Regions from separate parts of the Homo sapiens genome. Here region 2 is linked to region 1. The links come from fine-mapping of genetic effects on gene expression. A gene starts in region 1. The other region holds a variant in brackets. All regions are shown on one strand. Distances are from middle to middle.

Evidence for each region. PIP is the estimated chance that this variant, and not a neighbour inherited with it, causes the effect. A credible set is the group of variants that fine-mapping cannot tell apart.
Region 2: its variant is the best candidate, but not a certain one, in a credible set for the expression of ANO5 in blood mononuclear cells (TOPMed, PIP 0.50).

Annotation. Positions count from the first base shown.
Region 1 is chr11:22,190,202-22,195,583 of GRCh38, forward strand. It overlaps ANO5 (anoctamin 5), which reads left to right and starts at 2,884. Exons shown (of 22, transcript NM_213599.3): 1 at 2,884-3,331. The coding sequence starts at 3,292. RefSeq lists enhancers at 2,042-2,131, 2,362-2,421, 2,452-2,521, 3,172-3,261, 3,512-3,701 and a silencer at 2,702-2,751.
Region 2 is chr11:22,152,108-22,157,489 of GRCh38, forward strand. The region is part of intron 1 of LOC124902645 (a long non-coding RNA gene); the gene reads right to left. Among named protein-coding and RNA genes, the nearest start is that of ANO5, 38 kb to the right of the region's middle. The variant T/C (reference allele first, on the strand shown) is at 2,034.

The DNA of each region.
Region 1 (5,382 bases):
GGAACACATATAAATTACTCAGAACGTAATTCTGGAAATGTATGGTTAAAGATTGTATCTAACGAGGCAGAGTATAGTGATGGAGGAGAAAATGGGCATATCCTAAAAGTATAAATGTATAAGCAATATAAAATATGTCAATGATATGAATATAGAGAATATTTCTCTCAAGATCTAAAGAGTTATGGTCACAACCCAGACCTTTATTAGAAGGACACAGCTGGTTTTCAACTCTTGCTAACAAAGTTTAAAGCATGTTGATAACAATCTAAGCAAATTCAGCCTGAAAATGTTTCATTTAGTATGGAGCAAAATCATCAACATATAATGTCTTCTCATACACATCATTTCAAATACAGAACAGAATAAAAAAACATGAAACAAGGAATTATATAAAATACTAGAAAAATAATTTTATTTTCTTTATTTTAACTTCATCTATATAAAGCAAAGATTCTCCCCAGCTCTTAACTCACAATGTCCACAGCATCTAGAAAAATACCTGATTTCAGGAAAAATATTAGAAAACATTCATATTGTAGAAATTTTCTTAGAAGCCCAAACAAGGATTAATAATCAAGAGATGATAACCAAACACTTCTATCACAATTAGTCATTATAATTTAATGTGTAAATCTATGCTTATGTATAGTCACCTTTCAAACACAATTCCAAATTACATCAAGTAGGGAATTGCCTACCTATAGTCTTAAATCACTTGACTAGAGCTCATGTATTCGTAGACATATAGGCAGGAAAGTAAGGTATAGGGGCAAAACTGATTTCCAGTTCCGTGGTTAATCATAACCTTTACCAAACCACTTCTCTCTAGGCCTGTTTCCTTATCTGCAAAAGGTGATTCTCAGTTCTGAAATATCAATAGAATGGTGGGTGGGGAGGGGAATGCAGTAGCAGAAAAATGAAGAAAGGTCAAGACTTCTTTGGTCACCTCATCCTAACTTTCAAATCACCCCATCCTTATCCTAAACTCAGAGTCACTGATATGGTTCGCTGCGTGGCATGCCCAGGGAATTGTAATAATTCTCACCCTGAATTGTAATAATCCCCACGTGTCAAGAGCAGGGCCAGGTGGAGATAATAATGGGGGTGGTTTCCCCCATGCTATTCTAGTGATAGTGAATAAGTTTCAGGAGATCTGATGGTTTTATAAATCGGAGTTCCCCTGCACAAGCTCTTGCCCTCCCCCCATGTAAGACGCACCTTTGCTTTTCCTTTGCCTTCTGCCATGATTGTGAGGCCTCCCCAGCCATGTGGAACTGGGAGTCCATTAAACCTCTTTCATTTATAAATTACCCAGTCTCAAGTATGTCTTTATTAGCAGCATAAGAACAGACTAATACAGTCACTCCCTCCTCATCACTCAAGGCTCTCAGCTGAGACCTCTACCTCACTGTTAGTTCATCATCAGTCTTATTTCCCCGCCATTAGACAGTGAATCTAGTCTCTCAATTATTGTGTAGTTGGCAGTTGATCGGGTCTCAAAAACACAGAACCAATGCAGAGGGGCCTGTGAGGAGTAGAACGACCCATTCTGCTTGAGGTTAAAGTTCTGGTTGGGGTGGGCAGGAAGTGGAGGGGGGAAACAAAGTAACCCTTTGAAATGGAGTAGGGATCAATGTAATATGAGTTAATTTTCTTTTCTTTTTTTTTTCTCTTCTTCCTTCCTCCCTCTTCTTTTTTTCTTTTCTTTACTTTCTTTTGAGACAGGGTCTTGCTCTCCATCACTTAGGCTGGAGTGCAGCGGGATGATTGTGGCTCTATGTAGTCTCAATCTTCTGGGCTCAAGCGATCTTCCCACCTCAGCCTCCCGAGTAGCTGGGACCACAGGTGCCTGCCACCATGACTGGCTATTTTCCAATTTTTTGTAGAGACAGGGGTATCCCTATGTTGCCCAGGCTAGTCTTGAACTCCTGAGCTTTCAAGCGATATCGTCCAGCTGAGATGATGACAGGCGTCATCCCAGCTGGACTATAATATGGGTTAATCTTAATAGCAGCTAAATGTTTAACACATTCTGTGGCAAGGACTGTGCACCGTGCTTCTCTCAACAGCCTAGGAGGTGGGTACTATTATCATTCTCCTTTAAATATGTGGAAACTGAAACTTAGAGAAACTTGCCCCACACTATCCAACTCTTAAGGGGCAGAGGCTGACTTGGAACTCAGGCCACAAGGGATGACCTTCCCCCACCTGTAGAGGGCAGAGATCCTGCTGGGAACCCAGGAAGCAGGCAGGGCCAGGAGAAAAGTCAATACTCCCGCTCCAGACGCTATGGGGAAGGGGCTGCTGGCACCTTGGAGTCTCGGGCCATGAGCCGGCCTTAAAAGGGAGGGGTTCCTTTAAGGGAGAGGGACTTTTCCCCACGAGACCAAAAGTAACTCCCAACTGGGAGAGGGGTTCTCTCCGAGTGGCACGCATGAGCGGATCGATGAAGACCCGGCCAACCGGCTGAGGGAGCATCGGGACCCCCTTTGGGGATCGGAGGAGGAGGATTCCGACAGGAGGGAAGCGGCAGCCCTGGGGAACCAGGATTCCTGGTCGTGGGTGGACCCAGTGGAAAAGGACGTGCGAAGCCTGTACAGAATGGAGCAGGCCGGCCAACAGGGCCGGGGGGCGGCGGGTCCCGAGGAGGGACGGGAGGCTGCATGTCCGGAGGAGGTGCGGGAGGCGGCAGAGCAGGGACCTGGGGACGGCTTGAGCGGAGAGGAGGGGGCCAGCGTGGAGCCAGCCGGGCCGGGGGGCGGGGAGATGGCGGTCTCCGAGGGTGGGGCGCCGGCCGGTCTTGCGGTCTGGAGGCGGGGAAAGAGGCGTGGAAACAGGGACGCAGCGAAGGGGAAAGGAAAGCTGCCAGAGGGCAGGAGTGGAAAGGATCCTGGCGAGCACCGGGAGGAGTGGCGGCTGCGGGATCAGCTGCCGAGCAGGCACAGGGACAGGTGCCTGGAGAAGTACTGGGAGAGCGCCCAGGAGCGCTACCGGCTGAGGGTGGGGAAGCGCAGGGCCAAGCGCGCGAAGCAGGTTGTGGGGGACCGGGTCGAGTGGAAGTACCCGCCGGAGAGGAAGGCCGGCTGGCTGTGGCGCCCAGAGACGGTGGAGTCCGAGGAGGAGGAGAAGGAGGCCTGCAGAAGGAAGAGCAGGCCCTTAGAAGTCCAGCAGCAGCAACTCCGGCGGCCCACAGTCAGATTCAGCACCTGCCTCAGATCTCCACGTCTGTCTCAGCTGCCCCTCTCCTGCTGCCTCTCAGGCACCAGTGCCATTAACGAGCTGGCGAAGATGGGCGACCCGGATCTCCTGGAAGTGTTGGCGGAGGAAGGTAGGACCGCGCCAAGAGGCGTCAAGGGAGAGCCAGGCTGGCTGCCTGCACCCCTCCACCCGCGGCGCAGAGGCCCCGGGGGACGTTGGCGGCCCTGCGGCCTGAGTCCTAGGGAGGTTCGCTGCGTGGCGTGCTCAGCGCGAAACCGGGACTGCGGGGCAGAGTCCCCCGCCTGGGGTGAGTGGGGTTGGTTTCGGCGCCCCACAGATTTCTCTGCTGCTCCTGCGCGCCAGGGACCTGCGACCTGTGACCCCTATGGTTCCGGAACACCCTCCTTGCTCCCCTGCAGGCCTGGGAACCGCCGAGTAATTCAGGGCTGCTAGGCTAGCGCTGCAGTGCTTGGGTCTCCGAACCCAGCCAATGGAAACGAAGGCTTTCCCAAAAAAAGCAGCAGTATAGAGTGCAAGACAGCTATCCCACGTGTAAGGAGCTGGTCCTTGAGTCTTATTACCTCACTCTCTCTGCCCGTTACTTATCATGCTTTGAGATGCTTGTTAATTGTAGGAGTAGCAGATCCTAAAATCTATCAGTTTGAGATACTGAGAGCCATAGGCACTTGGAAAAGCTGCTGCTGCTGCTGCTGCTGTTGCTTTTCAACAGCTTTCATTAAGCCCTTTAGTTCCGTTGAGAAATATTTATCCATTGTTTGCCAAAGCCTTTACACCACCTGTATTCCGTGGACCTATTTTAATACATGTATTTTCCTTAAAATGCACATACTATTTTGCTGCTATCTCCAGGACCCCAGTTCCTTCAATGATATTTTATTTTCATGTCTTGTTTAGTGTTGGATTTAAACACAGAAACAGTTTTCCAAAGTGACAAAAGATCTGATCATTACTATTCAGTCTTCAAAGGCACCGGGAAATACCGTGTGTTACTGCATCCTCCTCGTTCCCTTTTTTAAGCAGCTTTATTGAGATATAATCTATATACTGTAAAATTCACCTATTTGACGTGTAAAGTTGGATTTTTTTTAGTGTATTTACAGAGTTTTGTAACTATCATCATAATCTAATTTTAGAACACTTTCATCACCCCAAATAGAAACCTCTTAGGCAGTCACTTCCCATCCTCCCCACTTCCTACCAGTAATCTCTTTATTGTCTCTATAGATTTGCCTATTCAAGACCATTCGAATAAATAGAATCATACAACATGTGGTCTGTTGTAACTGGCTTCTTTCTCGTAGATTAACGTTTTTGAAGTTAATCCATACTGCAGCTTTTATCAGTGCATCATTCTTATTAATTGCCAAATACTATTCCGTTGTAGAGATATAGCATACCTATCCATTCATCGATGGTAGGATTTGTGTTATTTCCACTTTCTTTTGCTTCTATGAATAATGCTGCTATGAACATTGATGTATCAGTTTTCATATGAACATATGCTTTTATTTTCCTCGGGTATATATCTAGGAGTGGAATTGCTGGATTATGTGGTAGCTTTATATTGAACATTTTAAGAAACTGCCAAACTGTTTTCCAGGCATCTGCATGTTACCTTCCCATCAATAATGTATGAGGGTTCCAATTTCTGTACATACTCACTAACACTTGTTATTGTCTTTTTTATTATAGCCATCCTAGTGGTTGTAAAGTGGTATCTCAGTGTGATTTTGATTCTATTGTGATTTGATTCTACTGACTAATGTAGCAAGTATTTTCATATACTTATTAGTTATTCACGTTTTTGGAGAAGTGTCTATTCAGATCATTTGCCTGTTTACAAAAATTTAGTTGTATTTTTCATTATTGAGTTGCAAGAATTCTTTATATATTCTGAATACAAGTCCCTTATTAGATATATGATTTACAAATATTTCCTCCCATTCTGAGTGTTATCATTCTATGTTCTTAATGGTGTCAGTTGAAGCATACCCCCCTTATTTTTTTTTTTTTTTTATTTTTTGAGACAGGGTCTGGCTCTATTGCCCAGGCTGTAATGCAGGGGCATCATCTCTGCTTACTGAAACCTCTGACTCCCAGGCTCAAGCGATCCTGCCACCTCAGCCTCTGGAGTGTCTTGGACTATGGGTGCTGCACCAC
Region 2 (5,382 bases), 38 kb before region 1:
TTTGGAGGCGGTGAATCAATATTATACAATTTTACATTTAATACATCACTGTACATATAGTGAGATCTTTATAATAAAATGCTGGTTGATATAAATCCATTTTATGTCAAAATAAATGAATATGGCATGACACATCACTCCCTCGCCTATCTGAACCAGCATTCAGACAGATCCAGAGAAGGGCATGATTTCTACTTTCTTTCTTTCTTTCTTTTTTTCTTTTTTATTTTTATTTTTATTTATTTTTTTTTTTTTTTGAGACGGAGTCTCTCTGTCTCCCAGGCTGGAGTGTAGTGGTGCGATCTAGGCTCACTGCAAGCTCCGCCTCCCGGGTTCCCGCCATTCCCCTGCCTCAGCCTCCCGAGTAGCTGGGACTACAGGCGCCCCCGCCACCACGCCCGGCTATTTTTTTTTTTTTTTTTTGTATTTTTAGTAGAAATGGGGTTTAACCGTGTTAGCCAGGATGGCCTCGATTTCCTGACCTCGTGATCCGCCCGCCTTGGCCTCCCAAAGCGCTGGGATTACAGGCGTGAGCCACCATGCCCGGCCGTGATTTCTACTTTCAACATTTAAGCCACATTCCATATCCTGATGGAAGTTCCAGAGAAGAGTTTGCATACAGTGTTTCCAGTTGTGTAAGTAGTTATTAGTATGAAAATATTTTATTAGACAAGTAAAAACCAAGGTTGGTGTGAAAGTCACAACTCAAACTGCTGACCAGACCACTGGCAGCTGGTTGCTGGTCCTCAAAATAGCTTTTTTTTTTTCCATGTATAAACTTTAAAAATCCATGCCTTTGGTTTTGAGTCACACAGTCTGTGGGTTCCCCCTGCTGGCTCTTTAAGTATTAGGACTCACAAGCTAAAAAACACGTAGGGATACCTATACACTGAAAACCAACTCCAGAGACAAAGCATCAGAATGATGCCTTGTATTGGAAGATTCCAGTTTGGAAGGGCAGAGAGATGTGGAGATAATACTAAGCTTATTTAACCTAAGAACCAGTGAGACTCAGCCCATTCTATTTGACATGTTTACCCACTTATTGTTTTTATGAATTGGTTACTAATGTGTAAAATTTGAATTTTTCGTTTCCTTTGAAAGGCTGCCAACAGAGAGTCAATATTGTTCCACAGCTGTGGTAAAGTAGTGTTTGCCCTTCTTAGATGGGGCATGCCCACTTGCCCACTAGAATTTGCCACAGTTACTAGTATTTGCTATGCCATGACTCACACTTACCGGGTGTGTCAGTTGTCCATTATCATCAGGCATGAGCTGTTTTTTTTTTTTTTTTTTTTTTTTTTTTTTTTTTTTTTTTTTTTTGTATACTTAGCCAATTTCACTCATTACAGTTTGGTGCCCAGATTCCACCAGACATTTGAGTTTTGAACTTCCGCTTTGAAACATAGGGCAGGTACCAATTTCTCCAAAACTCACTACTGATTCCTCCAAATCCTTATACCTCAACCCCTTGCAAACTAAGTGTTTTTGTTATTTTGACATATGTAATTTAGAACTTAGCTGCTCGTAATGAAGCTACTTTTACCGCTTGGAGCTGAAATATGATAAAAATACATATAGAGATTCCTCTTAATAATGAACTATCAAAAGAATACCCTTACAGTACTGTTTCACTTCTGAATCAATTTCTATAGCTGCAGCAAGGAAGAAGAGAGAGACTAGTATTTAAAAAAACTTTATCAGTCAAGTAGCAGAAGAAAAAATACACTGTGACTGAGAATGGGATGAAAGAAATATCTGAGGTCTTTTAAGAAAAGACCATATAATCTTATCTAGACCTGGCCACGACAAGCTGAAATTGAGGAAACCCAAAACTCCTTTTACACCGCATTTGGGTAAAAAGCAAAGCCTTGACCTGTTATTACCTGCCCCCAAGAAACCCAAACCTGCCATCAGGACTCACTGCTTCTTGATAATAGAGGTGCCAGGCACTGGTGGTTCACCAAAGCAGCTGTTAAGTTTATATATTTAGCATGAAATGAGTTTCTTTGGGGAGGGTGAAGATGGACTTT[T/C]TTTTTTTTTTAACACTGGAATGGTTAAATAATGATTTTCTGAGAACTTTCTGTTAAAAGGCCCTCCTATTCAAGTTCAGTTTCTTCCCTTCATCCACCTCTCATTCCAAATCTTCATTTTCCACATCTCAGTAGTTCTTACTCTATTAAGAGATAACAAAATGAAGCAGTATGAAGATTCTTGCCGGGGGTCAGGATTTCTGGATCCAAATCACATCTCTGCTGCTGACCATTTTCTGGACCAGTTTCTCCCATTAGCAAAATATGAGTTTAGAATACAGAAAAATGCATTGCTTTCCTTAATGACTACTACGTAATTAGGCATCCATGTACGTGTGCTTATCTAGTATAATCTTTTAAACTAAACACAAAAGCAAGTCAAAGGGTCCACAGTTAGTGTATGAGAATTATACATGACCCAAATATAAGCAAGTTGAATATGGGGGCCTTATTCACGTCTATTTTTTCTTATGGCAGAAATCTTTTCTAAGAATTTCTTGTTGTTTTATGATAAAATGTTCATAAAATGAAACCAAGCAGCTCAAACTGTATAATGAATTACTAACAACATTAAATACAATAACTAATATATCCAAGCCAGCTAGCCAGACACCTCTCAAAGAGAAATAAATGATTAGGTCCCAGCGGCTTGAAAGATCATGAATGGTAATCATGTCTAAAGCAAAAATTTGAAAAGTCCTCAGGGCCAAGTGGGCCATATCTGTCTCATGGGGTAAATAGTGGGCTTCAGATATTAGGCAATCGTTAATGTCTCTGCTCTTTCTAATATCCCCTTCCTCATCCTTCTTGCTAAAGTAGTATTTTCCAAAGGGAATTTCATGGGATATCACTTGGTATCCTAAAGAAAAACAAGAGAGAGGGGGTAAGAGGCTCTATAATTTTTTAGGATATGCTGAATCGAATAACAATATGGTAGAAACAACTAGTGGGTACCAGTCTTAATACCTGGCTGATTAAATAATCTGTACAACAAAATCCTGTGATATAAGTATACCTATGTAACAAACCTGCACTGATACCTAGGAGATTAAAAGTTAAAACAAAACAATATAGTGAAAACAGATTCTTCCCTGAGTCTTTAATATACCAACATGACAAGTGTTCTGGGAATTTGCATAAGGCGATAGCTACAGTAGTTCTCAATGAGGTTTGGTACCATCCTCCAAGGATCATAGTATTAGTCTGTTTTCACACTGCTAATAAAGACATACCCAAGGCTGGGTAATTTACTTTTTTATAAAACGTTTTAATTAACTCACAGTTCCACATGGCTGTGGAGGCCTCACAATCATGGTGGAAGGCGAAGGAGGAGTAAAGGCACATCTTACATAGCAGCAGGCAGGAGAGCCTGTGCAGGGGAACTGCCTTTTTTAAAACCATCAGATCTCATGAGACTTATTCACTATCATGAGAACAGCATGGGGAAGAACCCGCCCCCATGATTCAATTACCTCCCACCAGGTTCCTCCCACGACATGTGGGGATTGTGGGAGCTACAATTCAAGATGAGATTTGAGGGGGTAGGGGGGCAGAGCCAAATCATATAAATCACTTATAAATGTATTAAGTCAATTTTGATTATCATGATGATGAGAACCTTTACTTGCATTTAAAGTCCAGAGAACATGGATGCTAAATAACGTGCAATATTTGGGGATAATTGCAGAAAACAAAGAATTGTCTGGCTGTAAGTGCTAGTAGCCTCTTGTTGACATCAGCAAAGACTGCAGCATTTCCAAAAGGAATTTGAACAAAGAGCCTTCAGTTTGGAGTGAAACTTGTGAGACTACTATTTCCTGGAATCCATTTTGGGAAAGGTAGCTTAAGATACTTACTTAAAGACTTAGTTATAGCACTAGTCACCACCCACCACCACCTATGAATTTCTTTTTTTAACTGGGACTTGGTGAAGACCCAGATTATTTCAATCCCTTTAATCAAAGTGAAATGAAGGCAGTGGAAGGGAGAAGCGTAATTGTGGGCAGAAATCCTGCCTCAAATACACTTAGGCGGAAAACCGCTTTATCTCTTCAGAGCATTTGTGGCTACTTCTCTTCCCTGAAGCATTAAGAAGACTCCATAAGCAAAGCCCTTCCACATCATAGGACAAATTGCTGAAGTGAAAGAGAGCTACCCTCTACTTACTGGGACTGGTGTGAGGACCTTAACCAAGAAAAGAAGATACTGAATTGTAAATGTACCTAGGGGAATAAAATCTGAGTCTTACAAGTGCCTAAGAAATCAGCTTGTGGAACTTCCCAAACTTCCACATCAAGAAGTCTTTTCCTCTCCATTTTCACAGAAACTTCAAATTGTTACCCTTTTGATACTTTTTCCCCACCTTCACTGCTATTTCGATATAATTCATCATCTGATTTTATCATTAAATATTAAAAGGATTTTCAGAGAGTGTAAGGAGGTATAAACAACACATGTGATAAACATACTCTTCTCACCCCTTCCCCAAATAATAGCTATTAAGTTCTGCACCTAATACAAAGCTATTTAGCTGGCTGAACTTGGGAAAATCACTAATACTTTTGGGAATCTTGGTTTTCTTGTCTCTAAAATAGAGTTACTAAAAATGTTCACTTTACAGGGTTGCTGTACACATGAAATGAGATCATGTTGCAAAAGGCTTTTGTCCTGTTGCACAATTAAGTGATCAATTGATGGTAAAGCTGTTATTTTTATTATTAATAGACATGAAACCGGTCTTCTAAGTCTTCGTTCAGAGTTCTTTGGCTACCTGAAATTCTCAAGAAGACCGTGCTGCTTCCAGATGTAGCTGAGAAGGTGGCTTTTCTAAACTTCTCAGGCAGCACTGGTGCAAGCAGACGGCAGCTGCAGCCTACTAGCCTGGTTTCTTATTCACCTTCTCAGGTTCCTTCTTCCACTCCCTTCTCCATCAGTTAAGATTTCCCTCAAGAAGGCACAGTAGCAGCAGAGGCCACCAAGTTAACAACTTTTCTTCTCCAGTGTTCAGCTCTGTGGGATTTACTGTTCCACTTTTTTAATCTGAACTGATCCTCAGGGTAATTCATAAATAGCATTATATTTGTTAGTCTTTATTACCTGGCCCATTTGGCAGTTTGCAGGTAATATTGGCATAACATGACTCTATACAGGAGAGTGAGGGATCCACAGTCAGAATTGACTAGAGCTCTATATAGCAATGAGGCCACTCCTCTCACTTATATTTCACAAGTAGGAAACGTAAGGTCTAGAGGGGGCACTCATTTGCCCAGGCCTCACCATGGTAAGTAAACTGCAGAACTGGGTCTGGATCTGGTTCTCTTGGCTCTTTCAGAGTACAGAGAATACTATT